Linked DNA regions of Homo sapiens: all the other regions are reported to be linked to region 3. Evidence: microRNA targets listed by miRTarBase, many of them from high-throughput screens and not tested one by one. Region 3 holds a microRNA gene; each other region holds the end of a gene's coding sequence.

What was found. Region 3 holds the annotated microRNA hsa-miR-424-5p (CAGCAGCAAUUCAUGUUUUGAA, at 2,166-2,187, shown strand). A microRNA usually pairs through its seed, bases 2 to 8, with sites in the 3' UTR of a target mRNA and lowers its output. Matches are read on the target gene's strand: a 7mer-m8 pairs with bases 2 to 8, a 7mer-A1 pairs with bases 2 to 7 and ends in A, and an 8mer does both.
Region 1: the mRNA of IER2 is a reported target of hsa-miR-424-5p. Seed matches in the 3' UTR shown: 7mer-m8 at 1,566-1,572.
Region 2: miRTarBase lists PDCD1 as a target of hsa-miR-424-5p. Seed matches in the 3' UTR shown: 7mer-m8 at 4,067-4,073, 7mer-m8 at 4,064-4,070, 7mer-m8 at 4,061-4,067, 7mer-m8 at 4,058-4,064, 7mer-m8 at 4,055-4,061, 7mer-m8 at 4,052-4,058 and 2 more.
Region 4: the mRNA of SNX16 is a reported target of hsa-miR-424-5p. Seed matches in the 3' UTR shown: 7mer-m8 at 765-771.
Region 5: the mRNA of DMTF1 is a reported target of hsa-miR-424-5p. Seed matches in the 3' UTR shown: 8mer at 716-723.
Region 6: the mRNA of RECK is a reported target of hsa-miR-424-5p. Seed matches in the 3' UTR shown: 8mer at 3,560-3,567.

The regions. Positions count from the first base shown.
Region 1 is chr19:13,152,941-13,158,013 of GRCh38, forward strand. It overlaps IER2 (immediate early response 2), which reads left to right. Exons shown (of 2, transcript NM_004907.3): 2 at 4-1,971. The coding sequence starts at 247. The coding sequence ends at 918. It also overlaps the pseudogene RPL12P42. Among named protein-coding and RNA genes, the nearest start is that of IER2, 5.1 kb to the left of the region's middle. RefSeq lists enhancers at 1-215, 202-1,085, 1,146-1,235, 3,746-3,895, 4,196-4,285 and 1 more and silencers at 866-975, 2,586-2,905, 3,116-3,385.
Region 2 is chr2:241,846,681-241,851,742 of GRCh38, forward strand. PDCD1 (programmed cell death 1) reads right to left here. Exons shown (of 5, transcript NM_005018.3): 5 at 3,204-4,617. The coding sequence ends at 4,378. Among named protein-coding and RNA genes, the nearest start is that of PDCD1, 9.7 kb to the right of the region's middle.
Region 3 is chrX:134,543,794-134,548,866 of GRCh38, reverse strand. It overlaps MIR424 (microRNA 424), which reads left to right and starts at 2,156; the gene lies at 2,156-2,253. MIR503HG (MIR503 host gene) reads left to right here and starts at 2,237. Exons shown (of 3, transcript NR_024607.1): 1 at 2,237-2,315; 2 at 4,070-4,153; 3 at 4,868-5,073. It overlaps MIR503 (microRNA 503), which reads left to right and starts at 2,469; the gene lies at 2,469-2,539.
Region 4 is chr8:81,797,013-81,802,085 of GRCh38, reverse strand. SNX16 (sorting nexin 16) reads left to right here. Exons shown (of 8, transcript NM_152836.3): 8 at 493-2,503. The coding sequence ends at 589. Among named protein-coding and RNA genes, the nearest start is that of SNX16, 43 kb to the left of the region's middle.
Region 5 is chr7:87,194,563-87,199,635 of GRCh38, forward strand. It overlaps DMTF1 (cyclin D binding myb like transcription factor 1), which reads left to right. Exons shown (of 18, transcript NM_001142327.2): 17 at 122-266; 18 at 469-1,763. The coding sequence ends at 578. It overlaps TMEM243 (transmembrane protein 243), which reads right to left. Exons shown (of 4, transcript NM_024315.4): 2 at 4,445-4,495; 3 at 3,379-3,483; 4 at 1,598-2,196. The coding sequence ends at 2,074. It overlaps LOC105375384 (a long non-coding RNA gene), which reads left to right and starts at 3,156. Exons shown (of 2, transcript XR_927722.3): 1 at 3,156-5,073.
Region 6 is chr9:36,122,360-36,127,422 of GRCh38, reverse strand. It overlaps RECK (reversion inducing cysteine rich protein with kazal motifs), which reads right to left. Exons shown (of 21, transcript NM_021111.3): 21 at 2,968-4,599. The coding sequence ends at 4,378. Among named protein-coding and RNA genes, the nearest start is that of GLIPR2, 12 kb to the left of the region's middle.

The DNA of each region.
Region 1 (5,073 bases), not on the chromosome of region 3:
AAGGAGTGTTTGGCCGCGACGAGTTGGAAAGCCCGGATGCGTCCTTCGGTTGGGCGGGGTGTCTCAGTGACGTCACTGGGGGTATAAAAGGGCCTGGGTGGCGGGCGCCTGGGCAGAGCGTCCTAGCAGTGTCACTGCGTGGGTTGGTTTGTGTAGAGAGGCGTGAGCGAGCCCGTTGTCCGGAGTGCACCTGCTGCCTGTTCTGTCCCTCCCGGGAGCCCCCGCCGCTGTCGCCGTCGAGTCGCCATGGAAGTGCAGAAAGAGGCACAGCGCATCATGACCCTGTCGGTGTGGAAGATGTATCACTCCCGCATGCAGCGCGGTGGCCTGCGGCTGCACCGGAGTCTGCAGCTGTCGCTGGTCATGCGCAGCGCCCGGGAGCTCTACCTCTCGGCCAAGGTGGAGGCCCTCGAGCCCGAGGTGTCGTTGCCGGCCGCCCTCCCCTCTGACCCTCGCCTGCACCCGCCCCGAGAAGCCGAGTCCACGGCCGAGACAGCGACCCCCGACGGTGAGCACCCGTTTCCGGAGCCAATGGACACGCAGGAGGCGCCGACAGCCGAGGAGACCTCCGCCTGCTGTGCCCCGCGCCCCGCCAAAGTCAGCCGCAAACGACGCAGCAGCAGCCTGAGCGACGGCGGGGACGCTGGACTGGTCCCGAGCAAGAAAGCCCGTCTGGAAGAAAAGGAAGAAGAGGAGGGAGCGTCATCCGAAGTCGCCGATCGCCTGCAGCCCCCTCCGGCGCAAGCGGAGGGCGCCTTTCCCAACCTGGCCCGCGTCCTGCAGAGGCGCTTCTCCGGCCTCCTGAACTGCAGCCCCGCGGCCCCTCCGACGGCGCCGCCCGCGTGCGAGGCAAAGCCCGCTTGCCGCCCGGCGGACAGCATGCTCAACGTGCTCGTGCGGGCCGTGGTGGCCTTCTGAGGACCCCGAGCGGCGCTGCCGGAGCCCAGAGCGCGCGTCGAACCGTCGGCCCGAGGGCGCAGACCTGAGGCGAGGCCACCCCCCTCCATCCTGGGGGAAGCGCCCGCGAAAACCGTGGAGAGAAGCCGCCGCCCGGGCTGCTGAGAGGCCCGGAGAGGGACTCTGTCCCCGGGGAGCCATCGCCTTCAGTGTGCAGGGACGGCACCGAGGAGTCTGAGCCGGGGGCGCGGGCGCCTTCCGCAGAGACCTGCGCCCACAGGTGCTGTCTTAGTGGACTGGGACGTGAACCTTTCGCTCTCCTTCTGGACTGGGAGAAGGGAGGCTTGGGTGTTGTGTTTTTTGTTTTGTTTGTTTGTTTGTTTTTAAAGATCTCCTCAGGGTCGGACTTCATTTTGTACTGTGGGCTGTGCTGGCCCTTTCAAGGTTTTTCAAGAGTTGGTTTTGCGTTTCCAACCTCGGAGAATTCCAGGCACTCCCCTTCCCCCTCCGCTGACATACTTGTATAAGCGGTCATCGTTGCGTCATGGGGCAGGCGTGGGGAGCTTCCTGTCGCCTTGCGTGGGTGTGGGGCCTGGGAGGAGGTCCTGGGGCGTGCACCCGCCCTGGGCAGTGGGGAGGAGAGTGGCCTGAGTTACTTCACCCCCGCGTGCTGCTGGTTAATGTCCCGCGTCTCTGCACCTTCGGGTGGGAGCGGGGACTGATCTACTTTCACATTCTCAAGTTTTTCTCATCTGCATTAGAGGTGCCCAGTAGGTTCCCAGGTTCCAGCGTGCCCCTCCCTCAGACACACGGACACAATCAGCCGAGAAGTTCCTGGTCTGAATCACGAGAATGTGGAGGGGTGGGGGGTGTCAGTGGAAAGGCATAAGGCTGAGCTGAGACCAGTTGCTGGTGAAACTGGGCCAATCTGGGGAGGGGAACATCCTTGCCAGGGAGTTTCTGAGGGTCTGCTTTGTTTACCTTTCGTGCGGTGGATTCTTTTTAACTCCGTCTACCTGGCGTTTTGTTAGAAATGTCAGATAGGAAAATAAAAACCATTTGAGTAAAAAAGCCGGTGCTGTCTGGTTTTCTGCTGTGGTGGGGGAGGGGCGGGGTTAAAGCGTCAGGGGCTGGCAGCCGCTCGCTGGGGCCCCAAGAACCGGTCTGACCGGTTACCACGTGGGCGAGAGAGGGTTGGGCCCCCTTTTCCTTGCCCGGGCATTCCCTAACTGGTGGAGCCCCGCCTCCCCCAGATTTGGGGGTTCCCTTGAAATTGTCCTACAACTCCGGGACAGGGAGATCGGGGCTTTCTGAGTTGAGACAATAGTGCTAAACACACTGCCCCAAGCGGAGCTGGGGATCGATTGCACGCACTTTGAAGCCTTGAAAGGTGGTAGATCTCGCCCCCACCCCCTAGACCAAACTGAATCAGCTGTGGCCGGGGCCCTACAGTATCAGGTGGAGCTGAGCGGGTGAGCTTTGAAGGGCTCTTTAGTCCCCAGTTCCCGTATCTTCCTCGAGGAATCGTTGTGTGTCTCAGGCAGGGACGTGCAGCCTCAGTTTCCTCATCTGTGAAATGGGCCTCTAAGCAGCTTCTCCACCCGGCATTAGGTTTTTAAAAATGCCCATTAGAGCCCTAGTTATTTTCTTGGGTCACTCCCCAGCTCTAGAATAACCACCCCGAAACGAGAAAGCCCTTTCAATATACCCCACGTAGGTTTAAGAGTGGGGTTGTGGGCGTTGCCCCAGGGCGAAGGGAGGGGGCCTGTCGGGAAGACAAAGGAGTCGCAGGTGCGGGGAGTGGTGGCGGCGGCAGGCGCCGGGAAAGCGCTCGCCCCGCCCCGCCGACGGCTGGCTCTGCCGCCGCAGGCTTCCCATGACCCCAGGGGAACTGACCCCGTGGCCACAGGGTAGAAGGAGGGGCAAGCCGGCCTCAGAACGTCTGCTGGTGGAATCTGGGAGCTTTGGCTCCCCTCCCGCCCAACCCACACCCCCTTTCCTCTCCTGTGTGGATTGTGAAGGAGAGCTTCTCACCGTTCTCCAGCCAAGCTCGCCCCCACGGCTGCCTGATTCCTTCCTGGGAACACGTGGGGGGACTTTTAAAAGGCGCCACCTACTCCGAGTCCTGACCCACCCAACTCTCCCAGGGGACGTGGGGGCACTGGAGCCCCACACCGCAGGCGGTAGCTCAATGCACCCGCGTCGGAGTTCCTCCCCCGCGAGCGTGGCAAGGCTCAGGGAAGTCCCGGGCCCCTGGGGAGGGGGCCTTGCCGCGCATCCTGTCGCAGGAACCGCCGGGCCCTTCCTTCCGCGGGAAGCGGCTTGGCCGACCCCCGCCCCCGCCCGGGCCTCTTGGGGGTTTCCGGTGCCCGGCCACCGTGGGGCTGGGGACTGAAAGTGATGGGACTGAAGATGGGGCTGGAACAAACACACTACAGACACATCCCCTTAAGACACACCCATCCCCAAGACCCCACTGGACCCATCAGAAAAGGCAGCATTGAACCTTGTCACAGCAAATAACATTGGTGAGGCCTGGACTAATTGATTGGACAATGGCTGTGAAAACTAAAAAGGTCACCCATCCTGTGACCAGCAGGTTCCAGCAGGGAACCCCAAGCCTGCTGCAGGAGACTCCAGAAAGGTGTTTGCTGCTGGCTTGTACTAAATTGGCACAAACTGCAAACAGCACAGCCTACATGCCCATCCTCCCAGATGGGTCCTCCCCAGAGGATAAAAGGCCGGAGCCAGACAGAACTACACACACAGGCCACACAGATAATTCGGTACCAGAAACATGATGCTGAGTGACAAAGGCCAGCTGCAGAAGTCAGGTAAGAAGCACATATTCTGGGCCGGGCATGGTGGCTCATGCCTGTAATCCCAGCACTTTGGAAGGCTGAGGTGGGCAGCTCACCTGAGGTCAGGAGTTCGAGACCAGCCTGATCAACATGGTGAAACCCCATCTCTACTAAAAATACAAAAATTAGCTAGGCAAGGTGGCAGGCGCCTGTAATCCCAGCTATCCGAAGGCTGAGGCAGGAGAATCACTTGAACTCAGGAGGCAGAGGTTGCAGTGAGCCGAGATGGTGTCACTGCACTCCAGCCTGGGCTACAGAGGAAGACTCTGTCTCAAAAAAAGAAGAAGAAGAAGAAGAAGAAGAACATATTCTGGAGGGAGGGAAACAACCAGGTCTACTTTCGTTTTCTTGCTATGCATCCTTGAGTGAGTCACTTGACCTCTCTGGGCCTGTTTCCCCAACCGTATACTGGGGACAATAATAGTCCCTGCCTTTTAGGTTTGTTGTAAGGATTGAGATTACACATGTAATCCTTACAACAAACCTAGCAGAGTGCTGGCACGTAGAAAATGCTAAATGTGCTGGGTGCCATGGTTCATGCCTGTAACCCCAAAAATTTAGGAGGCTGAGGTGGGAGGATCACTTGAGGCCAAGAGTTTTCAGTGCAATCATGGCTCAGTGTAGCCATGTAGCCTCGAACTCCCAGACTCAAGCAATCCTCCTACCTCAGCCTCCCAAGCAGGTTGGACCACAGGCTCAGGCACCATGCACAGCTAATTTCTTTTTTTTTTCTTTCTTTCTCTTTTTCTTTCTTTTCTTTCTTCCTTCCTTCTTTCCTTTTTCTTTCTTTCTTTTCTTTCCCTCCCTCCTTCCCTTCCTTTCTTCCTTTCTTTCCTTTCTTTCTTTCAACTAGAGTCTCTCTATCACCCAGGCTGGAGTGCAGTGGCTTGATTACAGTTCACTGCAGCCTCGAGCTCCTGGGCTCAGGCAATCCTCCCACCTCAGCCTCTGGAGTAGCTGGGACTACGCCACCACACCCAGCTAATTTTTCTTTTTTTTCTTCTTCTCTCTCTTTTCTTCCTTGTCTCTTTCTTTTCTTTTCTTTTTTGTTTTTGACAGAGTCTCGCTCTGTTGCCAGGCTGGAATACAGTGGTGCAATCTCGGCTCACTGCAACCCTGGCCTCCCGGATTCAAGCAGTTCCCCTGCCTCAGCCTCCGAAGTAGCTGGGACTACAGGCGCACACCACGACACCTGGCTAATTTTTTTTTTCCCACCGGTTGTCAAATGACCCTTTATTGAAATATTTTTCTTTGTGCTTCTTAACTAGCTGGGCATTTCACAGCACCACTGTGGGTTTTTCTGGTTTTTTGGGGT
Region 2 (5,062 bases), not on the chromosome of region 3:
TGTATGAGAGCCGTGAATTTTGGACGCTGGCGCGCTGCGCTGTGAATGGGTGTTTGAGAGCCTTGAGTTCTGGATGCTAGCGCGCTGCGCTGTCAATGGATGAATGAGAGCCGTGAGTTCTGGATGCTGGCGCGCTGCGCTGTGAATGGGTGTTTGAGAGCCTTGAGTTCTGGATGCTGGCGCGCTGCGCTGTCAGTGGATGAATGAGAGACGTGAGTTCTGGATGCTAGCGCCCTGCGCTGTCAATGGATGAATGAGAGCCGTGAGTTCTGGATGCTGGCGCGCTGCGCTGTGAATGGGTGTTTGAGAGCCTTGAGTTCTGGATGCTGGCGCGCTGCGCTGTCAATGGATGAATGAGAGCCTTGAGTTCTGGATGCTGGCGCGCTGCGCTGTCAGTGGATGAATGAGAGACGTGAGTTCTGGATGCTGGCGCGCTGCGCTGTGAATGGGTGTATGAGAGCCTTGAGTTCTGGATGCTGGCGCGCTGCGCTGTGAATGGGTGTTTGAGAGCCTTGAGTTCTGGATGCTGGCGCGCTGCGCTGACAATGGATGAATGAGAGCCTTGAGTTCTGGATGCTGGCGCGCCGCGCTGTCAGTGGATGAATGAGAGACGTGAGTTCTGGACGCTGGTGCGCAGCGCTGTCAATGGATGAATGAAAGCCTTGAGTTCTGGATGCTGGCGCGCTGCGCTGTGAATGGGTGTTTGAGAGCCTTGAGTTCTGGATGCTGGCGTGCTGCGCTGTCAGTGGATGAATGAGAGACGTGAGTTCTGGACGCTGGCGCGCTGCGCTGTCAATGGATGAATGAGAGCCTTGAGTTCTGGATGCTGGCGCGCTGCGCTGTGAATGGGTGTTTGAGAGCCTTGAGTTCTGGATGCTGGCGTGCTGCGCTGTCAGTGGATGAATGAGAGACGTGAGTTCTGGACGCTGGCGCGCTGCGCTGTCAATGGATGAATGAAAGCCTTGAGTTCTGGATGCTGGCGCGCTGCGCTGTGAATGGGTGTATGAGAGCCTTGAGTTCTGGATGCTGGTGCGCTGCGCTGTCAATGGATGAATGAGAGCCGTGAGTTCTGGATGCTGGCGCGCTGCGCTGTGAATGGGTGTTTGAGAGCCTTGAGTTCTGGATGCTGGCGCGCTGCGCTGTCAGTGGATGAATGAGAGACGTGAGTTCTGGATGCTAGCGCGCTGCGCTGTCAATGGATGAATGAGAGCCGTGAGTTCTGGATGCTGGCGCGCTGCGCTGTGAATGGGTGTTTGAGAGCCTTGAGTTCTGGATGCTGGCGCGCTGCGCTGTCAATGGATGAATGAGAGCCTTGAGTTCTGGATGCTGGCGCGCTGCGCTGTCAGTGGATGAATGAGAGACGTGAGTTCTGGATGCTGGCGCGCTGCGCTGTGAATGGGTGTATGAGAGCCTTGAGTTCTGGATGCTGGCGCGCTGCGCTGTGAATGGGTGTTTGAGAGCCTTGAGTTCTGGATGCTGGCGCGCTGCGCTGACAATGGATGAATGAGAGCCTTGAGTTCTGGATGCTGGCGCGCTGCGCTGTGAATGGGTGTTTGAGAGCCTTGAGTTCTGGATGCTGGCGCGCTGCGCTGTGAATGGGTGTTTGAGAGCCTTGAGTTCTGGATGCTGGCGCGCTGCGCTGTCAATGGATGAATGAAAGCCTTGAGTTCTGGATGCTGGCGCGCTGCGCTGTGAATGGGTGTTTGAGAGCCTTGAGTTCTGGATGCTGGCGCGCCGCGCTGTCAGTGGATGAATGAGAGACGTGAGTTCTGGACGCTGGCGCGCTGCGCTGTCAATGGATGAATGAGAGCCTTGAGTTCTGGATGCTGGCGCGCTGCGCTGTGAATGGGTGTTTGAGAGCCTTGAGTTCTGGATGCTGGCGCGCTGCGCTGTCAGTGGATGAATGAGAGACGTGAGTTCTGGATGCTGGCGCGCTGCGCTGTCAATGGATGAATGAAAGCCTTGAGTTCTGGATGCTGGCGCGCTGCGCTGTGAATGGGTGTATGAGAGCCTTGAGTTCTGGATGCTGGTGCGCTGCGCTGTCAATGGATGAATGAGAGCCGTGAGTTCTGGATGCTGGCGCGCTGTGCTGTGAATGGGTGTTTGAGAGCCTTGAGTTCTGGATGCTGGCGCGCTGCGCTGTCAGTGGATGAATGAGAGCCGTGAGTTCTGGATGCTGGCGCGCTGCGCTGTGAATGGGTGTTTGAGAGCCTTGAGTTCTGGATGCTGGCGCGCTGCGCTGTCAATGGATGAATGAGAGCCGTGAATTCTGGACGCTGGCGCGCTGCGCTGTGAGTGGGTGTTTGAGAGCTGTGAGTTCTGGACGCTGATCTCACAGGCAGCACTCTATGGCTTTCTCATTGCCTGTGGTCATTTTCCATGGGACCTATCGGGTTTTGCGGATGGAAACCCACATCATGTGCAGAGCCCCCGGGCAGCGTTCCCTGCCAGGCCTGATCTGCCGGATCTCACCGGGAGTTCCCAGAGCTGCGAGGTCTCTGTGCCTGTCCCTGACACAGGCATGGGGTCCAGGACTGGGCTCCAGGATGGCAAGCAGAGAATGAGCCCCGGGGTGTCAGTGGGTGTTTGGCTGCGGTGCCCGAGGGCCTGGCAGGGCTCCTTTCCCTGCACCGTCCCTGCTGCTAGCTGCCAAGGACCGCAGCAGGGTGATAGGGCTCCAGCAGACGTGACCCCGCCTCCCCCGCTGCCCCCACCCTGTGTACTTAGGGAGGGACCCGCAGATGCTGTGTCCCTCATAGCCCAGGGCAGCCCTCCCACCCCGCTGTGGACGCCCTGGCACCAGGTACCACCCCTGCCCGGAGGGACTGGTAGGCATGGGGACACGGGGGCTATGGAGCAGGCACAGTCACTCAGGGACACCCATGCCTGGCCAGGAAGCCTGGGGCCAGGGGGCCGTGGGACCCCCCTAAAAGGCCTGGGCTTGGGGAAGATGGTGTCCCCAGCCCCGTGATGTTGGAGGAATTTTTCACCGGAGGGCTCTACATGTGAGTGGGGCAAACAGGGCGAGGAGGGCCTGTGTGTTTCTGGGACAGCGAGGGGAAGGCCTGACTCAGGCCAGGATCCAGGGGAGCCACCAGCACCCTCCACACACAGCCTCAGCCTGGCTGCCGCCTTGTCCCTCCCTGGAGGCCTCCCTCCCTCCTGCCCACTGCCCCCACAGCCACCAGACAGGACAGAACTCCTTAGCATGCTCTCATATTTAATTATAATTATAATATAATAGAACCACAGGGAAGGGGGATCCCTTGTCCCAGCCACTCAGGTGCCTGCTGGCCGCCTGGATGCTGGTGGCCCTGCCCCAGGAGTGGGGGTGCAGTGTGTGGATGTGAGGAGTGGATAGGCCACGGCGGGGGTACTAGGCCCCGGGGGAACGCCTGTACCTTCCCACCCAGGCCCTGGTGGGAGCCCGGCCAACCCCTTTAAATAATTTCAGGAATGGGTTCCAAGGAGAGCTCCCAGGGTGGGCACATGGGGGGCCCTAGGTGCCTGCACTTCTGCCCTCCCAACACCCAGGTGGCCACAGCTGGGAGGGGCCTGAGTCAACCCCAGCCCTGCCCTCCTGACCTTGGGACCGTAGGATGTCCCTCTCCCGAGTGGTGTGAGGGGCTGGGGTGGAATGCGGCGGCAGGAGGCCAGAGTGCTGGCTGGGCCTGAAAGGCCTCCAGCTCTGCCTGCCCGCTTACTGCCTCAGCTTCCCTGCCCCACAAAGGGCCTGAGGTGCTGCCTGGGCATGTGTAAAGGTGGAGGGGTTTCCTGCCCTGCCCACCACAGCCAGGAGCTCTTCTGACCTTCCCTGAAACTTCTCTAGGCCTGCAGGGAGCAGATAACTCCTGGGGAGTCCCCAGCCCCATGTACCTCCCACTCCTGTGCCCAGTCTTGGGCCCTGCGTCCAGGGCGTTTCGGGATGCCACTGCCAGGGGCACCTTGGCTGCTCCAAGGCCATCTCCAACCAGCCCCCAAGTTCAGGCAGGAGGCTCCGGGGCGTCAGGCAGGGCCACGGCGCCTTCAGCCCCGGGCCGCAGGCAGCAGCAGCAGCAGCAGCAGCAGCAGCAGAGATTCAGGGAGCTGGACGCAGGCAGCTCTGTGCTGGCAGGACCTGAAGCAGTGACTGCATCTGGCCCTCCCTGTAGGGGACGGTGACACCTGCTGCCTGGGCTCACTGTGGGCATTGAGACATGAGTCCTGTGGTGGGGCTGTGCCTGGTGCAGGTGCAGGCTGGAGCCCCGGTCGCCCCCAGGCAGCTCAGCCCCTGGACGGCCTGCAATGGCCTGCACCCTGCCTGCTTCTCCTGAGGAAATGCGCTGACCCGGGCTCATGGTGGAGGGTCTGCAGAACACTGGTGGCCAAGGAAGCCGGTCAGAGGGGCCAAGAGCAGTGTCCATCCTCAGGCCTCAGTGGCTGGGCACTCCGAGGGCCGTCAGCTGAGCCCCTGCGGGCGGGGGATGAGGTGCCCATTCCGCTAGGAAAGACAATGGTGGCATACTCCGTCTGCTCAGGGACACAGGGCACGGGGGGCTCCGGGGTCTTCTCTCGCCACTGGAAATCCAGCTCCCCATAGTCCACAGAGAACACAGGCACGGCTGAGGGGTCCTCCTTCTTTGAGGAGAAAGGGAGAGGGAGTCAGCCCCACGGCCCACCGCAGGAAGGAGGCCCGCGGCTCCACAGCCTGGCTGCAGTACCGGCACCGAACCTGGGCCCCCCACTATGAGCTGCTTACCCTGAGCTGTCCCACCACTGCCCTCTGTGTGATCTGGGGACACCACCCCTCCTCTCTGGCTCAATGTCCCCCTCTGAAATGTCCCTGGCATTCTTGCAGATTTAGGATTCCAAAATGTGACTTTTCAAGCTCTCCTGTCTCCAATGTAAGATAAGAAATGACCAAGCCCACCCCACGCCCTCGCAGGTGGGCACACGCATGGGCCGGGCACACCTGGAGACCGCAGGCAGGCACATATGTGGGCCGGGCACCCCCAGAGACCGCAGGCGGGCACACGCGTGGGCCAGGCACCCCTGGAGACCGCAGGCAGGCACACACATGGGC
Region 3 (5,073 bases):
TCCTCTTATTTGCAAGAAGTTAGTTATGTCTTGGAAAGAAATGTGTGATTAATTTCACATTGTCTCTCCCGAATTAAAACTTTAAAGGTTGTTTAGTTTTCCCCGTAGGGACTTGACATTGTGGAAGTTTGGCTAGAATGCGCCGAGAGAAGGTACATCGTGTGTTTGGGGTGTGGGGGACGAAGGCATATGCAAAATTAAAAGACAAAACGTTGTAGAGTATGAACAGAGGAAGAGGCGTATTCTTTGGCTCTTAAATCATTTAGCCAAACACATTGCAGTTCAGAAGGGGGTGGGGCTATGGCAACTCGAAAGTATCGATTCTTTGTCTATTGTATCAGTGAATGACCCTCTCCTGAAGTGACAAGACGCCCCTTTGTAATCTCTTTTCGTAAGTAAATTTCAGTCTAAGGGGAAATATGTAAACTAGGGGATCGAGGTGGCTTTTTAGGGGTGTAACTCGTTGTACTATCACTGGGAGAGATGAAAGGGGTTAGGGTGAAAGGTATAAATGAATTTGATTCCAAGAGCAATCTGGAAGGGACCTTCGCCTTTGACACCGATGCTGTTTCGAATGAACTTTTGTTTTTCTAAGTAGTCAACTAAGGAAATGTTAAATTAGGCATGACTTTAACTTCTGACATGATGGCTCGTATATTTGTGTGGAACAAAATGTTGGGAGAAAGTTGTGGAGTTTTACATGATAATTGTACATTTGCTAAACATGTTTTTTTTTTCTTTTTAAGGGCAGTCAACGACATTTTTCTCCATTAATCCCAAAGTCAGTGTAAAAGTTGTTTGTAAATATCATTGCCAAAACAAGATGGAATGTAGAGATACTTGATTGTCGCAATTTAGGGAATGGGGTTATTGTTACTAATGACTTTTTTTTTTTACCATGACATAGTGTATTTGTTACCACTGGATCTCAGTCTGGATGTTATAAATTCGATACTTAATCTTATTAAATACTCTGCACATTTTATTAACTAATAAATAGGACACTTAACATTCATTGTACTGGTTTTGAAAAACCGACTTAATTTGTAAGTGTAACAAGATACTTACAGTTGGATAATTTAAATGTCTATTACTTGTGCTGAAATGTATTTAACTTTCAAAACCATTACAGTTAGTGCTGATTTTGTTGTTTTAACTTTTAGGTTTGTGATTGAGGATTTCAGAGTGGGTTTTTTTTTTAATGCTTAATTGAATATTGTATTCAAACAAAAAGAGGGCATGCATGTGACTTGTTGCTAATATGTGTCCATTTTAAAAAGGAAAAAGTGGTATCTAATGAGTTAATCATTAAGGAGTATGCGCAGTGCCGGCCATTTCAGGACATGAAAGTTTCTGTGGAGCTGCTTGAAACAGGAAGGAGCGACTTGACATCAAGTATTTAAACTTTTTGATTTATGTTTTGATAGATGACATTGATAGGTATAAATTATAAATAAGTTTGAGTAACCAGTTTAATATGTAAACTGGTATTTCATCTACAGAAAGTTCTCTGTCATTGTTTGGAGCTCTTTAAAATAACTCAGCTGGGGTGTTTAAGAATAAAAACACTAGCAGTGAGTTAGGACATCTAATGCTTTTAAAGATAGATGTATATGTCGCAACGATAGTGTAAGAATCAGCTGAAGCTACCGGTGAGGTTTTGGTTATTTTCTTTCAGTCATCTGAGTCCATTTCCAATAAAGGTTGTTTTTTTGTTTCGTTTTTTGTTTTTTTTTAATGGGGACAATGAATGAGACTTGTAATATGCAGCAGGAAGAAGTTTCACCAAGACTTTGAAACTGGCAAGAATGATCCAGATGTCCAATTGCCTCTACTTAACCTTATTCGTCTACCTTCAGAAGTAATTAGATTCTCTTCCACACTAATTCGTATCCCCCATCGCTCTGCTTTTCACCCACTACGTTGTTCCAAGATTCATCCTCAGGGGAAAAAATTGAGAGCCACACTTTCGGCTCCACCTGCAGCTCCTGGAAATCAAATGGTGAAGTTATAAGAAGTACCTTAACTTGGAGTGAAGTGGCCTAGTCATAAGTTTTGCCCTATTCCTTGCCAGGGGGTGGGGCGGGGCTTCCTTCAGTCATCCAGTCTTTATTCACCCGCAGGTACCCCCAGATCGATCCCCCTTCATTGACTCCGAGGGGATACAGCAGCAATTCATGTTTTGAAGTGTTCTAAATGGTTCAAAACGTGAGGCGCTGCTATACCCCCTCGTGGGGAAGGTAGAAGGTGGGGTCTGCCGGACGCGTGTTCCTGCCACCAGGTGCCCGCTCCCCGCGAGGCCGGCTCAGGAGCAGGTAGGTGGGCGGGGGCTCGCGTCTCTGTTTCCGGCGGGTCCTCGCCCTTGTCCACGCAGCAGGGCTGTAGTCCGGGGAGGGCAGTATTCCTGGCTAGGCTGGGGCGCATAGGCGGTGCGAGTCGAGGAGAGACGCGGTGCCCGCGCTCAGCCGTGCCCTAGCAGCGGGAACAGTTCTGCAGTGAGCGATCGGTGCTCTGGGGTATTGTTTCCGCTGCCAGGGTAAGTCTGGGACTGCCGTTCGGGCCTACCCAGCAGGTAAGTCTTAGGCCATCGCCTGCGGTGTCGGCCCCGGGAGCAGCGAGACCCAAGATTGCATCAAACGTTTGCCCCGTCTCTGCATATGTGACTGGACGTGAATGATGCTTCATTTTGGCACCCCCTTTCCCTGCTCAGGTAGAATGTAAACAATTGAAAAAAATCCCTTCCCAATCAGAATACCACCCACAGGACAACGAAGAAAACCTATCTTCAGTCCCCACCCACGAAATGCTGGGGGGTGGGGAGGACTGGAAAAGGAGTAAGGGGAGAGGAAGGGTGAGCAGCTGCAAGAAGTCTTTACACCTCTCTGCGGTTCCTGGTAAACGCGCTCATGTCCTGGGTATGGAAGGGACTTAAGAATTCAGGAAAGATCAAAATAACGGGCCTCTTCCCCACTCCCTCGCCCTCCCTTCCCCGCTGCTGGGGGGTTAGGGAGGCTCCGTGGAGCTCCAGCACTCTAGAAGGATCGGGTGAGGCGCGAGGCCTTGCGGGCGGGTGAACCCAAGGTGGGGTGGAAGGCTCCAACCCGCCCAATCTGAGCCCGAGGCCTGCTGAGAAGCATGGGGGCCTTGGGATAGTTCCAGAATGAGGATGTGCGTTTCTAGCTGCTTTGCGCCCTCCTCCCCCAAAAATCTGCTACCACAATTCCAACCCGGCGGCACGCCCCCAAGACTCCTTTGTCGCCCCAGGGGCGGGACCTGAGCTGTCGATTTCAGGAGCCCTTCGTGACTTCAAAAGTCCTGGGCACTGTTGCTCATGAGTGCTGCACAACTGTCGCCCTCTAAAGCCACCTCCATCCCTCACTGGGCTGGCCTCCTGAGCCTTCGGTGAGGAAACGGGGTTCCGAGTTGCCCGCCTGAGAGCTTAACAGTCTGACTAGAAAAGGGCTAATTCGCTTTCTGTGCAAATCTCTTGAGCTAATTATTTAATCTGAAACATGGACAGGTAAAGGACCATTGGCGGGCGTGGGGAGGGAGGTGTGGAATCTTTCCCACACTTTTTGTCACCTTAAAGAAAAAAAAAAGACACCCAAACTCCTCTGGTCTGAATGGGCTGCCTGGAACTGGGCTTCCCGGGGCCAGGAGTGGGCCCCTAGAAGTTTCCCAGTTTGGGGTGGGGCCGGGGTTCCGAAGTCTAGAGCTGGGAGTCGGGTTCAGCGGCCCGAGACGCTGGCTCTCCCAGACTCCCTTGCGCCGGGGCAGTGCGCGGGGGCGGCTCGGGTCCCTCCCGGGCCGGCGGGGACCCTCAGGCTCCCGGGGCGCCGCCCACCAGCCCGACCCGGCGGCCTAGAAATCCCCATTCTGCTCCCGCCTCGCCCCGGCCGGCCAGCGCAGGGCCCCTCAGGCCCGCAATCTCCAGGCTCAAACGGCGAACAGGTCCCCGCATCCGCCTGCCTTTGCACTTGGGGGTGGGAGAGCCACCTTGTGACGCCCCTTCTGCCTCTCACCAGCTTCCCCCTTTCTCCCCGTCCTGTACGGTTCCCCCTGGAGCCAGAAGGAAGCCCGGTGCCAGCCAGCCTTCCTGAAAGACCAAGCCCGCGCCATCCGGCTTCCTCCAGTGGACGCCTGCAGGACCCAGGTGAGACACGGAACCGGTTGGGGACGCGAGCCAGGGATCCTGACCGGTTGGGGGCGGCGAGCAAGGGATCCTGACTTGGGGGCGTTGCCTCCCGGAATCCAAGCGGCCTTTTGCCCGGGTCTCCCGAGATGCATCGAAATTGAGCTCGTCCACACAGCCCCCTGACTGCGTGATGCCCTTTTCTGACTTAAAACATTCCTTGTACCTTTATTTACACGATCCAAGTTGCAGTGTGCCTAGATTTTCCTCCAAGGACAAAAATGTGAATAAAGCAATATTTTAGCCAAACATTTCTGTGTCAATTAAGAAGATTGCAATTCGTTCCAGACTATAAATTCTCTTTAACAACTCCCTAAGGTATTCTTTTAAATTGTTTTTCAGCGTTGCTAAATGTGCATCATAATGTGTGGGAGACTTGTATAAAGTGAATCAATTTATACTCAGCTGATTAATTGACCCGATGTTACCACCTCCAAGGAGGCACCTTTCCACTATTTTCTCATTTTTTCCCCAACACATGTTATTTGTTAGTGAGGAAGCTGCGTGCACGTGGCATTGTATAAAGTTTATTAGACAGACGTGGCCCTTAAACTAGGAAGAGCTTAGTCTAACTCTAAATCTAAAATTCGACATTTCGGTAAGTTGTGAGACAAGATACCCAGGTTGTTTGATAAACCAGAATTGAACATAATTTTTTAAAAATTTAAATCACAGGAATGTTTTTCTTGAAGGCATCCAGCATCTCCAGTTAGCAGTACTGATTTTTTTTCCCCCCAACAAAGGAACACTACATCAACACTGTTGGCGGGGACCTGGACACAGAAGACTCCTGTTTCAAGAAAATACAATCATCTCTCAAAGGCTGTAATTTATATGCATTTTAAAACTCTAGGCATTGAAAACCACCCAAGTGTCCCAAA
Region 4 (5,073 bases), not on the chromosome of region 3:
ATTGACAGATTACCTTAATCTCCCTCAATATCACCCTTTTTCCATTGAAAAAGTAGGCTACTATAATATAATAGCAAACCACCCTTCTTACCTAATAGGAATGATGAAAAGGTAATGAATTTAAAAGCACATAGAATTTTTATTGCATACAAATCCAAGGTAATTGTTAATAGTTTAGTGGTAATGGTCAACTATAATTCTGAGAAAAATTTTATGTTGATAAAGGTAATTACCAAGTAGATTTTTATTGGTAAATGGTAGTTTGGAGAGCTGAGTTTAAAAACCTATCTCCAAAGGTCTTACTTGGCAATGACAACTTAAATATATCAAATTTCTGATTGAATGTTTAAATACTCTTACATTAAATACTTTTACACTAAGTATGTAAATTTTCTATAAGGTAGAAGATTTTTAAAGGTAATAGTGAAAATGAAATAATAGCATGCATCCAGTCCCATCATTGATATGTTCCTTTTTTTTTTTTTTTTGCAGAGCTGATAATAAACCATGCTTAAGTTTTAGTGAACCTGAAAATGCTGTATCAGAGATAGAAGTAGCAGAAGTGGCATATGATGCTGAAGAAGACTAATGTATCACAAGCAGTTCCCTCCATTTAGACTATTCAAAAATTTAGAAGAGTGGCAAATACTATTTTAAAAGAAGAACCAAGAACTGTAAAACATATAGAAAAGAGCAAGAATGCACATGTATAAAGTTTACATAAAGAAGTTTTTTTAAGTTATTGAGATAGGAAATATATTCACTGCTGCTTTTAATTGTATTTTATCCAATTACATTTAATACACTAAAAAAAATCTTGTTGGAATTCTGTTATCAAGGCCCACATTCTTAAATACTGTGCATAAATTATTATGGTGTTTTGCCTATATATTGCTCCAAACTACTGTGTATATATGTATGTGTGTTAAATCACCAATTATATTAATCAAATGGAAATTAATTGCATGTTACTATCTGGGTGATATATTCTTCTTTATATCTCTGACATGACATATTTTCATTAATAGTTTAAATCAGTGACCATCATAATAAAGATAAAATTTAGTTGAGTTTTTAATGTTTACATGTTTACATCTCTAAATAAAATTTGCTTATTTGAAATGTTAATGCTCTTTAGAAAAATGACTTTCTAGTACCAAAGGAAAACTACTTGAAAGAGCTGTAATCATATAGCTAAAGTGATAAGATAGCCTTGATTTTAAAAGCTGATTCATTAATATCAAAATACTTTAATAAGTGTCACAGTTATTAATATGTTACATTTGTTTAGTTTCCACGTAATCTTTATCTCTACCTAGATTTAGTGAGTTTGCCTCTTTCAGAATACTACCTCCTTTTGTTAAGGCATATTCTTTCGAAAATATAGATTCTAAATAAATAGGGGCTTATACAAAAAAGAAAATAAAAAGCCATATATACTGCAAAGTTCCTAACTGGCTTGACTCCTGACATTGCATTTTTATTTCTATTTGTGTGAAGATGTTGTTATACTGTATTATGGCTGATTTTCTTTTTAATATATTTAGCCAAGTGATGCACTTTATGATAATTAAACTCTTTTGTGCCAAGTTTAATTGGTGGATTTTTTTAGTAAGTAGAGTTAGGAGAAAGAATTATGTAGTGCCTTTACTATTTCACTTTCTACAAAAGTCTCCTAGGGTCTTTGAGTCAGCTTTATGAAAAAATGTTTGTTTATTTCAGCTTTGTGTACAGTCATTAAAAGTGCCTTGTTTCATTTTTATAGGATGAAGTTATTTATTTTCTATTTTCACTGTTTTGCATATTGCTGTTAATAAGCATTGTAATCATGCTGGCATTTTGCAATCCCAGTCGGTATGCTTTCTAAAAACTGAGGGAAACTTACTGGGGAAATAGAATAACAATCTCCATTTTTTTCTTTACTATCTAAAAGTTTATCGGTATCTTGATGTATATATATATTAAGGTGTGGCTGTTTAAAATTCTAATGACATATATCAACACATTCAATGGCTGTTGTTAACCTTTGAAGTAAAAAGGAGATCACTTTTTACCAAATAACCAAAAATTTTTAGTCTGTCAAAGTGCACAGGTATGTTCTCAGAACATTTTTCACAATGTGTATCAGAAATATGTTTGCTATCCTTAGAGACAGAAATGAATATAATAAATTGATCTGCTTATTTATTAAAATTATTATTCTAGACTTACAAAAGGCTTAAAAAGAACAATCATTTAATCAGTACCATTCTGTATCTTATATAACAGATCTTTGCCAAATTCTAGATATTATAGTGTTGCCTGTCTGTTCTAAAGCGAACCAGCCACTTTTTCAATCTGGCTTTTTGGAAGATTGTATTTAAAGTTCTTCAAGGATGAAGAAAAAAATCTGTTAATTAGGTAAACCACTATTATTTATATTTATAATTTACTTTTTTTTACTTTTATAATGCATTTTACTCCCAGTATTATGTTCATTTAATAAATTATTTTTTCACTACAACAGTAGCTGTGTTGTTCATATGTTGAATACCATTTTCCCCCTCCATTTTCTATATTCTCCCTATCTTTTACAATTATTGTAAATTGAATTATATTTAAGTGCTGAATTTCACAGATGTAGAATGAGTCTGATTTTCTTTTTAGGTTTACACTTTATATTGCTGATCATTTTTTGAAAGTCTTTGTGAATAGGTGCAATGCACTTTAACATAACCTATACTAATAATTCTAAAAATTGAATGTAACTGAAATAACATTTTTGTGGATAATCTTTTAACCTTTTAGAAATAAGTTTACATATAGTTAGTACAACCATAAAACAGCATTTTAAAATGTATCTACTACATCGAGATTAGCCATTTACAGCACATTTATTTAGAAAACCATGCTTAGATAAATTATCTATGTAGTCTAGTTCAGTCTGTGATATTAAAAGGGAACAGTGGCTTTAGATATAAAAATAATTTGGTTTTGAAATGGATTTTATTACTTATAGGAACACATGAGTTTGGGGATTATGATAAAACAAGTCTGTTTTCCCAACTAGCAGAAGAATCTAAATTTTATCCTCTAGGAAATCTTCAGAGAGCTACATATTTGATCCACATTTTGGCTCTTCATAGAATTACTGTTACTGCATTATGCTTTGTTTCTATGCTGTTGGCTCCTAATAGCAAACACAGTCATCAAAACATATATTTTCAATACATGTGTTTTTAAGGCTAATGGCTACTATTAAATATATCACATAGTGTACCTTTTATGAAGACCCATAGGAGAAACTTCTCTTGGGTCTTGATCTCAGCAAAACATGTGCTTCTCCTAAACAGTTGAGTTTCAGGGGAGGGTTGTGTGGTTTTTGTTTTGTTTGTTTGTTTGTTTTGGGACAAAGTCGCTCTGTCACCCAGGCTGGAGTGCAGTGGCGCAATTTCGGCTCACTGCAGCCTCCGCCTCCCGGGTTCAAGCAATTCTGTCTCAGCCTCCCGAGTCGCTGGGACTACAGGTGCACATCACCACACCAGGCTAATTTTTGTATTTTTAATAGAGACAGGCTTTCACCATATTGGTCAGGCTAGTCTTAAACTCCTGACCTCAGGTGATCCACCCGCCTCAGCCTCCTAAAGTGCTGGGATTACAGGTGTGAGCCATTGTGACCAGCCTAATTTGTTTTTCTCTCTTTTTTCTATTTAGTGGTTTTCCCTAATTTTATTTTTATTATACTTTAAGATCTGGGATACACGTGCAGAACATCCAGGTTTGTTACATAGGTATACACGTGCCATGGTGGTTTGCTGCACCCATCAACCCGTCATCTACATTAGGTATTTCTCCTAATGCTATCCCTCCGCTAGCCTCCCACCCCCTGACAGGCCCCAGTGTGTCATGTTCCACTCCCTGTGTCCATGTGTTCTCATTGTTCAACTCCCACTTATGAGTGAGAACATGCAGTGTTTGGTTTTCTGTTCCTGTGTTAGTTTGCTGAGAATTATGGTTTCCAGCTTCATCCATGTCCCTGCAAAGAACATGAACTCATCCCTTTTTTATGGCTGCATAGTATTCCATGGTGTATATGTGCCACGTTTTCTTTATCCAGTCTATCCTTGATGGGCATTTGGGATTCGTTTTCATCTTAAAGAGTCTAATGCTCTCTTTGTTGCTCCTCTTTGTCTTTTGGGCAGCTCTAGGCCAAATTGTAGTTCACTTGTATGGTTATGCTTTTCTGTTGTAATCATGACTTTATTTTTTATCTTCTTCAATTTTTTTTCCTATTTAAGTCGTTCTATTAGAACATACGTATTTTGGGAGCCAGGTGCGGTGGCTCATGCCTGTAATCCCAACACTTTGGGAGGCCGAGCTGGGTGGATTGCTTGAGCTCAGGAGACCAGCTTGGGTAGCATGCATGGAGAAACCCCGTCCCTACAAAAAACTAGCCAGATGTTGTGGCCTGTGCCTGTAGTCCCAGCTCCTGAGGTGGAAGAATCGCCTGAGCACCAGAGGTGAGGCTGCAGTGAGCTGTGACTGCACCATTGCCCTCCAGCCCAGGCATCAGAGTGAGATACTATTTAAAAACAAAAAACAAAAAAAAAGCCTTGAAAGAAGATCACTGAATGTGGAATGCACTTAGAAATGCTAGCTAATGGTAAGCTATAGGTGGATTTTTGACTAGAGCACAGTATGAAGTCATGATCATGGTTTTCAGCCTCAAATTAGAACAGACCTCACTTGTCACTTGTAAATAATTTACAGAATATTAGATCAGTGTCATCTCCACACAAAATAATAAGCAAAGCAACCAATGTATACTCAATAATGTTTTATTATAATAGATATGCTGAGAGTAAGTATAGACCTTAAATAATGTTTGCAGCCTAGCTAACTGTAATCAAAGACATTAGCAGCAGTCAAATAGTGGCTAAGGTGTGAAATGTAAAGCCCCACATTGCGGTTATTAAACCTATAACTCTGGAGGACTCTAGAATTAGCTGATCTGCTAGTCCACGCTTCTATAATAGTTCCTTTGGAGAGCAGACTGTTCACTGGCTAACACTACAGATACTTATATTCCTCTTC
Region 5 (5,073 bases), not on the chromosome of region 3:
ATTTTATATTCTGATTTTTAAATGGGTTATGTTTAAGTCTAACCTATACATACCTATACATGGGATTTTAAGGAAGACTAGTAAGAATATGAGTCAATATTTTTTTTTTAATGTTATTTAGGGTTTAGAGTCTCCCACTATAGAAGAACAAGTTGATCAAACAATTGATGATGAAACAATACTTATCGTTCCTTCACCACATGGCTTTATCCAGGCATCTGATGTTATAGATACTGAATCTGTCTTGCCTTTGACAACACTAACAGGTACTGTAATATAATACTTACTATGTGCCTGATAAATTTTAGATGGAAAAAAACAGACATTTAATTAACTTGTTTCAGTCTTTCTTGATCCAATAAGCTACTAGTCCTGTTGAGTTCTACACTGTGGTAGAATACCTTAAATTCTTGACATGGATTAGAGAATAAATATATACATTTAAGACTAACTTGAAACTCATTACAGATCCCATACTCCAACATCATCAGGAAGAATCAAATATCATTGGATCATCCTTGGGCAGTCCTGTTTCAGAAGATTCAAAGGATGTCGAAGATTTGGTAAACTGTCATTAGAATAATTCTTAGAAATAGGCAGTTCAAGCAAAGAAGGCACACTGTTAATTACAACCTCTTCAAAGAAATAGGAGCAACCCCCAAGAGGCTTAATTTACCAATTTAAATAGCCACAGTCCTTAAGCCACACACATTGTTGCTGCTATGACTTTTTACCTCCTTTAAACACATCATCTGAGGTTGAGTTTTATGACAGTATGTAGTTGAGTGGAGGCTGGGAGTTTTAAGCATAAATCCCTGTTTAGTGTTACATGGGAATAAGGAATTTCATTCACTTCAGCCACTAAGAAAAGTTTAGAATCACGAAAGCTTAACTGCTGTGGTTTAAAGTACAGTTTCTCTAAAGATCAGACATGGCACTGTCTCCTCTCAAGCCTGGTTGTAGTTCAGATGAGTCTTTTCAACATGGTCTTCAACATGGTCTAGAGCTTACCAGTGATCTTCTGATCTTCAAGAAGACTAAGTTTGAGACTTGACCAGCATACAAGTATAGAGACCTAGGAGGTGGTCTTGTGGTGGTACATTTGGTTAACCCATTGCTGGCAGTGGGAGCTGATTTAGGCAGGGTAAACAGGAAAGCATTAAAAGTTAAAATTCACTACAGGTTTTTTGTTACTTTTAAAGGGAATATGGATAAGCATAGTAACAAAACCCACCAGAATCTAAGCAGTTTTCACCCCCTCAGAAACCACTGTCATTAGTTTACAAAGTTAGCACTTTGAAGTAAAACTAAATGAGGAAGGAAGTAATGTTACCTATCCTTGATACCATGACCATTTATTAGATGTTTTGCTATATAAATTACCGAGAGAATAGTTTGTCATCCACTTAGTGTGTTAGCTGGTGGGGTACAATATAACCTCTCATCTCAGGCTATTTTAAAAAAACAATATTTGCTTCTATAACAAAAGGAAACAAATCTAAGAATCATTCCTGTACTACAGAAGGGTTAAGGCAAAGGTAGCCTTTTGGGCTTTTTAATGAATATGACCCCTATAGAAAAGTCAAGAAAAAAAAACCCTTGTATAAATTATTTTATTTATTATTGTAATTAGATCTTCACAAAGTTGTCTTTTCACTGTGTTTTGTCAACGTGAAATTAAATTGTAGTTATAAGCAAAAGTTGGTTGCCTAGGGAACAATTGTATATTCAGTTTAACAGAAATAAAAGAATATTTGTCTTAAGATGCAAGATTTGTTTTTACATAGCCTTTTGCCATACAATTATAAAAATTTCATTTCAAAAGTGAAATTTTTTTGTGCTGTTTTAGCTTTAAGGGTTGGAATGTTTAGGTGCAACATCAGCTCCTTAAAGAAAAAGCAAAGTGATCTAGGATATGTCTCCCTTGCAAGAGGGAATTAACATTTACAATTAACATGAAAATCATGTATCAGACTTCTGCAGGAGATTCTTCAGCATACCTTATCCAAAAATTACTCACTGTCCTAATGTATCATTTTGAAGAGTCCTGGTAAGTACTTCTCCTTGGCAGCCTCACCTTCCCACATCATGGAAGTACAGGTTTGCACATATACACAACATGATGATAGAAAATATGATATAGTAAATTAGCTTTCTAAATTTCGGTTCTAAGTCTCCTTGTCGATACCAGTAGATCTAAAAGAAGAATTAAAGTTTATAAATTAAAATTTGAAATATAACATTTTCTCTACCAATTTCAAATTTCATTAGTATTTGTTTATTCCCCTAAATGAGACAGACATTCTCCATATTCTGAGGTCTCTACATTCCTGAGATCAGTACAGCCAGAATTTAATTCTTACTCTGAGTTTCCACATCCAAGATCATACTTATTCCTACTTTCTCAGTTTACTTTCCTCTATATTCACACCTGTATACTCCACCAGTCATCTGGCAAGCTATCCAAGAACATATACCTGGGCATACTACTTAACAGGAAAGGAAGACAACATTTAGACTCATGATTCATACAGTTGGTTCAGACCGTAAAATAGGGCTTCCATAATATATTTGGATTAAACTAGTTCATTGTCTGTTAGTCACTTTAGGCTTCAAGCTAGGGGAACAGGAAAGCTCCCAAAGTGGGATGGGCTAGTTCTTCTTCGGGTCATGGGAGTATATAGCAGGATCAGTGAATGAGAACACTTGGAGGTGTCTCCTGGTTTAATTAATTTTAACTCAGATAAGCAAATTACTATTGTTTTTTCTTTTGATTCTGCCTCTAAAGGAACATGAAACAATGTAGCCAACTAATGAATGAACACTGAGGAGCCACCACCATCTTTGTTTCTTCACCATAAAAGAAACATTTGCAGTAAATCAAACATTTTTACAACAACTGCAGCTTTAGATTTCCCAGGAGGTTTTGGTGTTAATACCTCCATTTTGGGAAACAAACATGTAGATTAAACTAATTTTGTAATAATTAGAATTAAATCCAGAGTGCTCTATCTCTTCCCTTAGCAGTAACTGGCATTTCCCAAAGACTGTTGGCCCTTACGTAGTCCTTGAGTGAAGATGAATTAAGTAAATTAAAATCTTTGGCCACCTACGTCTTTCCACTAATTTTTTTTTTTTTTTTTTTTTTTTTTTTAAGCTATCAAGGGAGTGGAATTTCTCTTTGGGGTTACAACTTTGGGATTTAGGAGAAAAGGAGAAGACTCAGATTTTATTGAGAATTCTAACATACTTTTAGGGGGAGGATGAGGATATAATTAAGAGATACCCTTTTGTATAGACCCAAGGCTGAAAATTTTTGTCCTGTGCATTGCAACTTAAACCCTCAAGAACACTGTTTAAATTCTCAACAGTACTTACAAGTATGCAGGCAGTAATACTACTCAAAGAGATGCAGACAGCAAAGAATATATTCAACGGTTTTGGAGGTAGTTGAGGGAAAACAAAAGCACTTATCAGCGTTACCTGTATGAAGAGAAATTATGTAAGGCCTTAACAGTAATTCCAAGACTTGGTAATTACCAACTGGAGTCTAGGCAACAGTACTACAAAATGCTTCATGTTATAAAATTACATCTGCCACCAAGTTTGCTTTCTAGAATGTTAATACAGTAATTATAAATATGTTCGAGTTATTTTAGTACTTCTTTTCTAAACTTTCCCTTACTTATGAAAGGAGAGAAAACATCAGTAATACTAGCTGATGCCAAAATAACTTCATTAACTAAACCTCACTCCCAGGATTAATGATTCTGCTGGTAAAAGTTCTAGCCATTTTGTTATTTTAAATATTTCTAGCAAAATGAATATAATCAAAGCTGGTTTTGCTATAACATTATGAAACACACTGAAAGACTTCTAATGTTGTATAGTTCTGTTTCTAACAGATGCAGCATTATATGCAATCTTTTCATTAAGAAGCCATGGAAAAAAATTCTCTTAAATTTAATGTGCCAGAAAAATGTCAAACTATGGAAAATACAGCTTTTAAAAATTTTATTGTAATAGCTCCCAGATGTATACTGTATACAGGATGTATACAGTACAACTACTATACACTGTGACCAAATCTTTTAAAACTTGACCAAAGGGTAATGGATATGTTCTTCAGGAACAAAATAGAAATGGGGAATTATGGTAGATGACAGAAGGAAGTGGCTACTAGCCACTGACATTTTTACAAATTTACTAGGCAAAACATGGTAAACTCAATTATCTTAAAACGAAGTTGTCTGACTTGTACCATTTCACATATTCAACCTGGGGGTGGGGCAGAATTAAATTAGCTACTCCAATTAGCAACTGCAATTTTGTGGTAATAAAATTAAAAGCACTTATTTAGCTTTTTTTGGAAAGTTAACCATAATTGATAAAGTTTTCAAAACTGGCTAAGAGCCTGGGTGAGGCACAAAATGAGGATACTTACTAGAATCAATAAGGATGTTAAGCTGCCAACAACTAAATTGATGATTCGATCCTGAAAGAGAAAAGAATTTTTAAGCCATATGACTTGGATCCATGTTACCTTCAGTATAGTACAATGCAAGGCATTTGGATGGTTTACTATAAAGAAACCCAAGATCCAGTCCTCTGAGCTTTACACATAAAACTACCAGACAAAGCAAAGTGTACTGAACCATAAGAGTGGAAAATGTACTTTGGGAAAATGGCCAACTGGGGAAGGTTTCTTGAAGGGACAGAACATTTATACTAGAGTCTTGATTGGGTAGTATCAAATGGGTAAGGGAGGCTTACAAATAATGCATGTGCTGCTGAGGATAGCATAAGCCAAAGGAGAAGGACAGGCACTGCAGGAATGGCCAGGCCAGAGCATTGGTTAAAGGTATCAGGAACCGGACTAGATGTAGAGTACCATGATGTGTCTGGAACTATATTTGTAATACAGCTTAGGTATCCTTGTCTAGTCTAAAAATAGATGCTACTGTTAAAAGGGATGGGTCCTAGAGTGCCAAGGCTTGGCACTTGCAATCTTAAGAGACCATCCAGTCCAGTAGTTTTTCCAAGTTATTTAATAGTGAAGGGCTTTAGTATATA
Region 6 (5,063 bases), not on the chromosome of region 3:
CAGCCTCCCAAAGTGCTGGGATTACAGGCATGAGCCATCGCGCCCTGCCTAAGTGGTTACACTTCTGTTTGGCAAAGCAACTGGTTGCATTTGCAGTAGAGTTCAGTGGGAGATTGGTCTGGAGAAGACAGAGGAGGTGGTCTTTAGGAAAAGACCCACCCCCTGATTACCTGGTGGGTGTTGGCCAAGATAGGGCTTCCACCTATGAACCTTTAGGCAAGGATGTACCGCCCAGTAGACAACATCCCAAATATGAAACCGTTTCCCTCAATTTCCCCGCACAGGGCAGTGAGGTAACCACCTCCTCCCCATTGCAGACAGAGGAGGTACCTTGCCCTGATTACAGAGAGAGATAGATATGTACAGAGAAGGCTCTAGAAGGATTCTGCACTTATTTGTAGAGGCAGGGAGAGGAAGGTATGGGATTTTTTTTCCTTTATTTATATTTCCAAGTACTTGGGGGAAGGTGCACACGTAACTTTTACAAGGAAAAAACAATACAGTGAACTTCATTTTGGAATAATGGAAAAGTGGGTGGAGCCAGGGGACAGAGTGTTCACCCTGTGAGGCTTCCTTCCCTACCCTCTCCACCATCAGCCTAATGCCCTGAGGCTGGGCTCTAGAATGAAACTCAACCTTAGACTTGGCATTTGCTCTCTGTGTGAGGCGTTTTGCTTTGGGCCGGGAGACAACATGGTGAAAAGCACTCCCTAAACTGCCCTAGAAAGTGAGCTGGCGAACTGTGTCAGTTACTTTTTATGATTCCTGATGCTCCTTGAACCTGTTTGCTCAGACCCACCCAGGCTCACCTGGCCTTGGAACTGTTTCACTCTGCTCACCTTCTGGCATCTACCTTCATGGCAACCTCCTTTATGGCCAGTTCCATTTCTGAGAAGTACAAATCCTGCCTGGCTGCCTTGTGCCAGGGAAAGCCTGGACCTGGCCTCTGGCCGTGGCTTCACCCTGACTCCCTGTGTAACCACAGCTTGGTCCCTGTACTCTTGGTTTCTCTCTGTGTGCACCGTGGAAATCTGCCCTCCAGCCCCAAGATTGCTGGACTGCTGGAAGGACTGGCTCATCCCTGGGAATGACGCCTCTGCCTTCACTTTCTCTCAGCTTGCAAAGTGCACAACTCAAGCCTCTTCTGCAGCTGGGAGGCAGGGAAGGAAAGGCCCCTGCAGCGGGGCCTCCTGTCCCTCTGAGAATTAGAGCACCCTCTGTGGGAGTGTGTGGGCCTGACTCCCATCAGCCCAAGGCTGAAAGAGAAGCATTGAATCAAACGAAGGAAAGTGCAGTTTCTTCAGTGACGATCAGTGTTCCTGGTGGGTTTAAGTTTCCTCCCACAGTGGAGCTGAAAGAGACCCTGGCTGAACTCTAAGGGTGGGGACCAGGCCTAAGGGAACCCTGGCCCCCAGCCTGCTCAGTTATTATTTCCTCAGGAGAGTCCAGGGTGCTCACAGGACAGAGGGAAGCACTGCCTAGTAACAAGATCAGTGGATGGTCTTGAAGGTCTCGTGGCACTGAAGTTTGGGGCACACAATCCTTTGCAGGCTAGAGCTATCCAGGCTGGTCAGTGTAGCTGGAAGGGCAAGGGCAGAGGCTTAGGATGCCACTGTGGCCTGGCATTCAAGCTGGGCACATCGGATCTGCCTTATACTTCCCCACACCACGCCCCTCACAACATGTCAGCCCTGCTGTTCTACCCCTGGAACGGACCTGGACTCTGTCGTTTCTGCACCTTTGCTCAAGCTGTACCTCCTACTTAGAATGCCTTTCTCAAAGCCATCTGGCAAAGTCTCCTGGTTTCTTCCAGGCCTGGTGCAAACCAACCCTCTTTTCGAGGGCTTGCGTCTTCCCCCTTGTTAGATGCTCCCTCCCCCAACTCACACCTCCCATGGCAGGTTGCCTGTACCATTTGATCACCTTCTCCAACCTGTCCTATTAAACGCCTTGCATTTTCTTTGAGATGGGTTCTTGCTATGTTGACCAGGCTGGAAACATCTACTTCTCTAATAAAAAATCTTGTCAGTCCTGGCTATTGTCCTAGCCTGATGAGAAAAGATGTCTATGGTAGACAGTGTTATTCAAAATACTTACTGTCCCTCCCCCAACACACACAAAACACCGTGGGAGGACTGTATGTCCCCACCCTTTGAACTCTGGAGTGGCCATGTGACTTGCTTTGGTTAGTAAAACGTAGAAAGAAATGACAGCATCACTTCCAAGCAGAGAATTCAGGGCCAGCTTGTGGTCCTCTATGTCTCTTTTCTGCCCTTTGTGAGGACGCTGGAATGGGTCTGGAGTGAAGATAGTATCAGGTGTGGCAGCTGACCCACAATGGACATGTGAAGGGAACAAAATAGAAGCCTCTGTTGTAAGCCACTGAAGTTTTGGGGACTTAGCCTAAGCTGATTGGTACCACTTCTCTGGTCCCATCAGCAGCCCTCCATCTCCATATTCCCATGGTCTCCCTGCCCCAGGTGTACCCTGGAACTGGAACATCAGGACCAGCACAGTGGGGAGAACTGCCTAGTATGCAGTCTTGGAAGGCCTGAAGCTCTCTCTGTCCTTAAGGCTGAAAGCTGGGGTCTTTGTATTTGACTCTCTGTCACTGCCTGCCCTCTGGTCTGACCAACTGTGTCCTAGCTGGCCTGTTCTCCCAGGGCCCTTGGCTTGGGATAATAGCACTCCATGACTTCTTTTTTTTTTTTTTGAGACAGGGTCTCACTCTGTCTCAGGTATGAGACAGGTTGGGGTACAGTGGTGTGATCTCAGCTCACTGTAACCTCCACCTCCCAGGTTCAAGCGATTCTCCAGCCTCAGCCTCCCAAGTAGATGGGACCACAGACATGTGCCACCATACCCGGCTAATTTCCATGACTTCTTATCCCCGAGCAAAGGACACAGCTCACCTAAGGGTGATCAGTGGTTTCCTTTTTGAATGTCAACATTGCTTAGAAGCATGCATGATCATATAAAAATTATTTTTATTAAAATAGAAAAGCTTTCCAGTATATTGCATTAAAGACATTTATACAGAAAAAAGGCAATTGCAACAAGCATGCTACATCAGCACTGACATATTCTGAAAGCTTTAAGTGCCCATTTTTCAGCAACATTTTGGTATAATACGCATATCCCTATGTATTTCAGAGGGTACATATAATACTGAAAAAATACTTCATGTAAAATCTAAGTTCATGTGCATACACACAAGAAGTATTACATCAAATAGCTTATTTCAAACTGTGAAACACATTCAAAGTATTCAATTTCTTAGACAACATGCATACATTTTAATACTCAGCTTGACACTTTTAAATATATAAACCACAATTCTTTATACTTCTATATCAAAAAAGAAAGTCAGACAGAACACTTATCTACATTGTGCATATCACAAAAAGCAAATGTGTTTTCACGAATGGAAAGCACTGGGTTAACACACATGATTGTCATTTTACAAATATGGCTATTCACCTTCTTCATAATAAAATAGAAATATAATGTATTATTTACATGAACTACACATTATTTCACTTTTTGGCAATTATATAAGTAGCAGCAATTGGTTTAAAGATTGATGTTTAAAAACTCTACATTTAACTTGGATGAATACCGATGAATATATATCTGGTTAATATAAAAATTGCATAATGCAAGATGCTTTGATGCAATGTCACTTCTCCCTTTCACAAAAGTCACAGACACAAATCCGTGACCAGTGAGCCTGTTGCTTACAACATATAATTATATGAGTGTCATTTAATCAGCTTGCTTTTGCATAACACAGTAGTTGGGGTTCTGAATTAAATTTCTGTAATTTAATGCAAATTTGCCTGATAATTTACATAATTTACATAATTTCAAAGATGTTTTATCTATGTTTCATATTCTTTAATGGCAGTGGCTCTTCACTGGGACCCCTAGCTTCTAGCCAGAGTAGGTAATTATCTGTAAACAAAACAAATGCAACGGGAACCTTAAATACTTCAAAAAGAACTCTGAAATGAAGTTTGTGAACCTGATAGTACAGTGAATTATCTTTCTAAAAAGTGGTCATCTCATTTCCCAGCGATAAATTTGCTTTAGAGTGGGGGACCCTTATGGTGAGGAAATGTAAATCATATGGCAGTGGTCTACCAGGAAGAGACATTCTGTTTTCATTAGTATTTGGAACAACACATTTTAACATTTGTAAAAACAAAACAAAAATCCTACTAATATTGGCGGATTAAAAAAAAAAATACTGTGTGGCGAATAGAGGTGACATGTGCCTTTCCTTGGCCAATATTCAACTACAAACCAGCAGTCCTGAATGTCTTTTTCAAGGCAGGAGAGTGAGGTGGAGGAGCATTCTGCACTTTCCGTGGGCAGTCAGTTATATGTCCAGAGCAAGTGCAAGGCAAGGCCCAAGCTGAGGGGAAGGAGGAGGGAGTGGCAAGAAGGCCTGGCCCTGACACCGGCCGATGGCACACTGCTGGAGACCTGTACCTGGGAAATGATGAGGGCAGAGAGAGGGACATGGGACGCCAAAGTCGGGCTGTCAGAGTTGATAAGGGACTCAATCTTCTCTGCTTCTTTATTGCAGGCTTCAATCTGTGAGGAGAAACAAGGTTCCCTTAATATAAAACCACAGAACGTTTTCAACATCAAGCCAGACAAATTCCACGTATATCCTAAAAGTAGCGTGGCCTCAGAGGGCATTTACTTTCTCTTTGTCCTTCTGTTCTTATCCAAAGTAACATTTTATTATAGTTTTAGTTTATTACATAAATATAGCAGCATTAATGGAAATCAAACCAGAAAAGAAATAATTGGCCATGTGTTGTGGCTCATGCCTGTAATCCTAGCACTCTGGGAGGCCAAGGTGGGAGGGTAGCTTGAGCCCAGGAGTTCGAGACCAGCCTGGGCAATGTAGCAAGATCCCATCTCAAAGAAAAGAAAAGAAGAAAAAAGAAAAGAGAAAGACAAGAAATAATCCACAATGCCACTGCCCTAATCAATCAACTGTTTTCATTTTTCCACACCTGTTACCCACACCTCTTACCCACATTTAGACT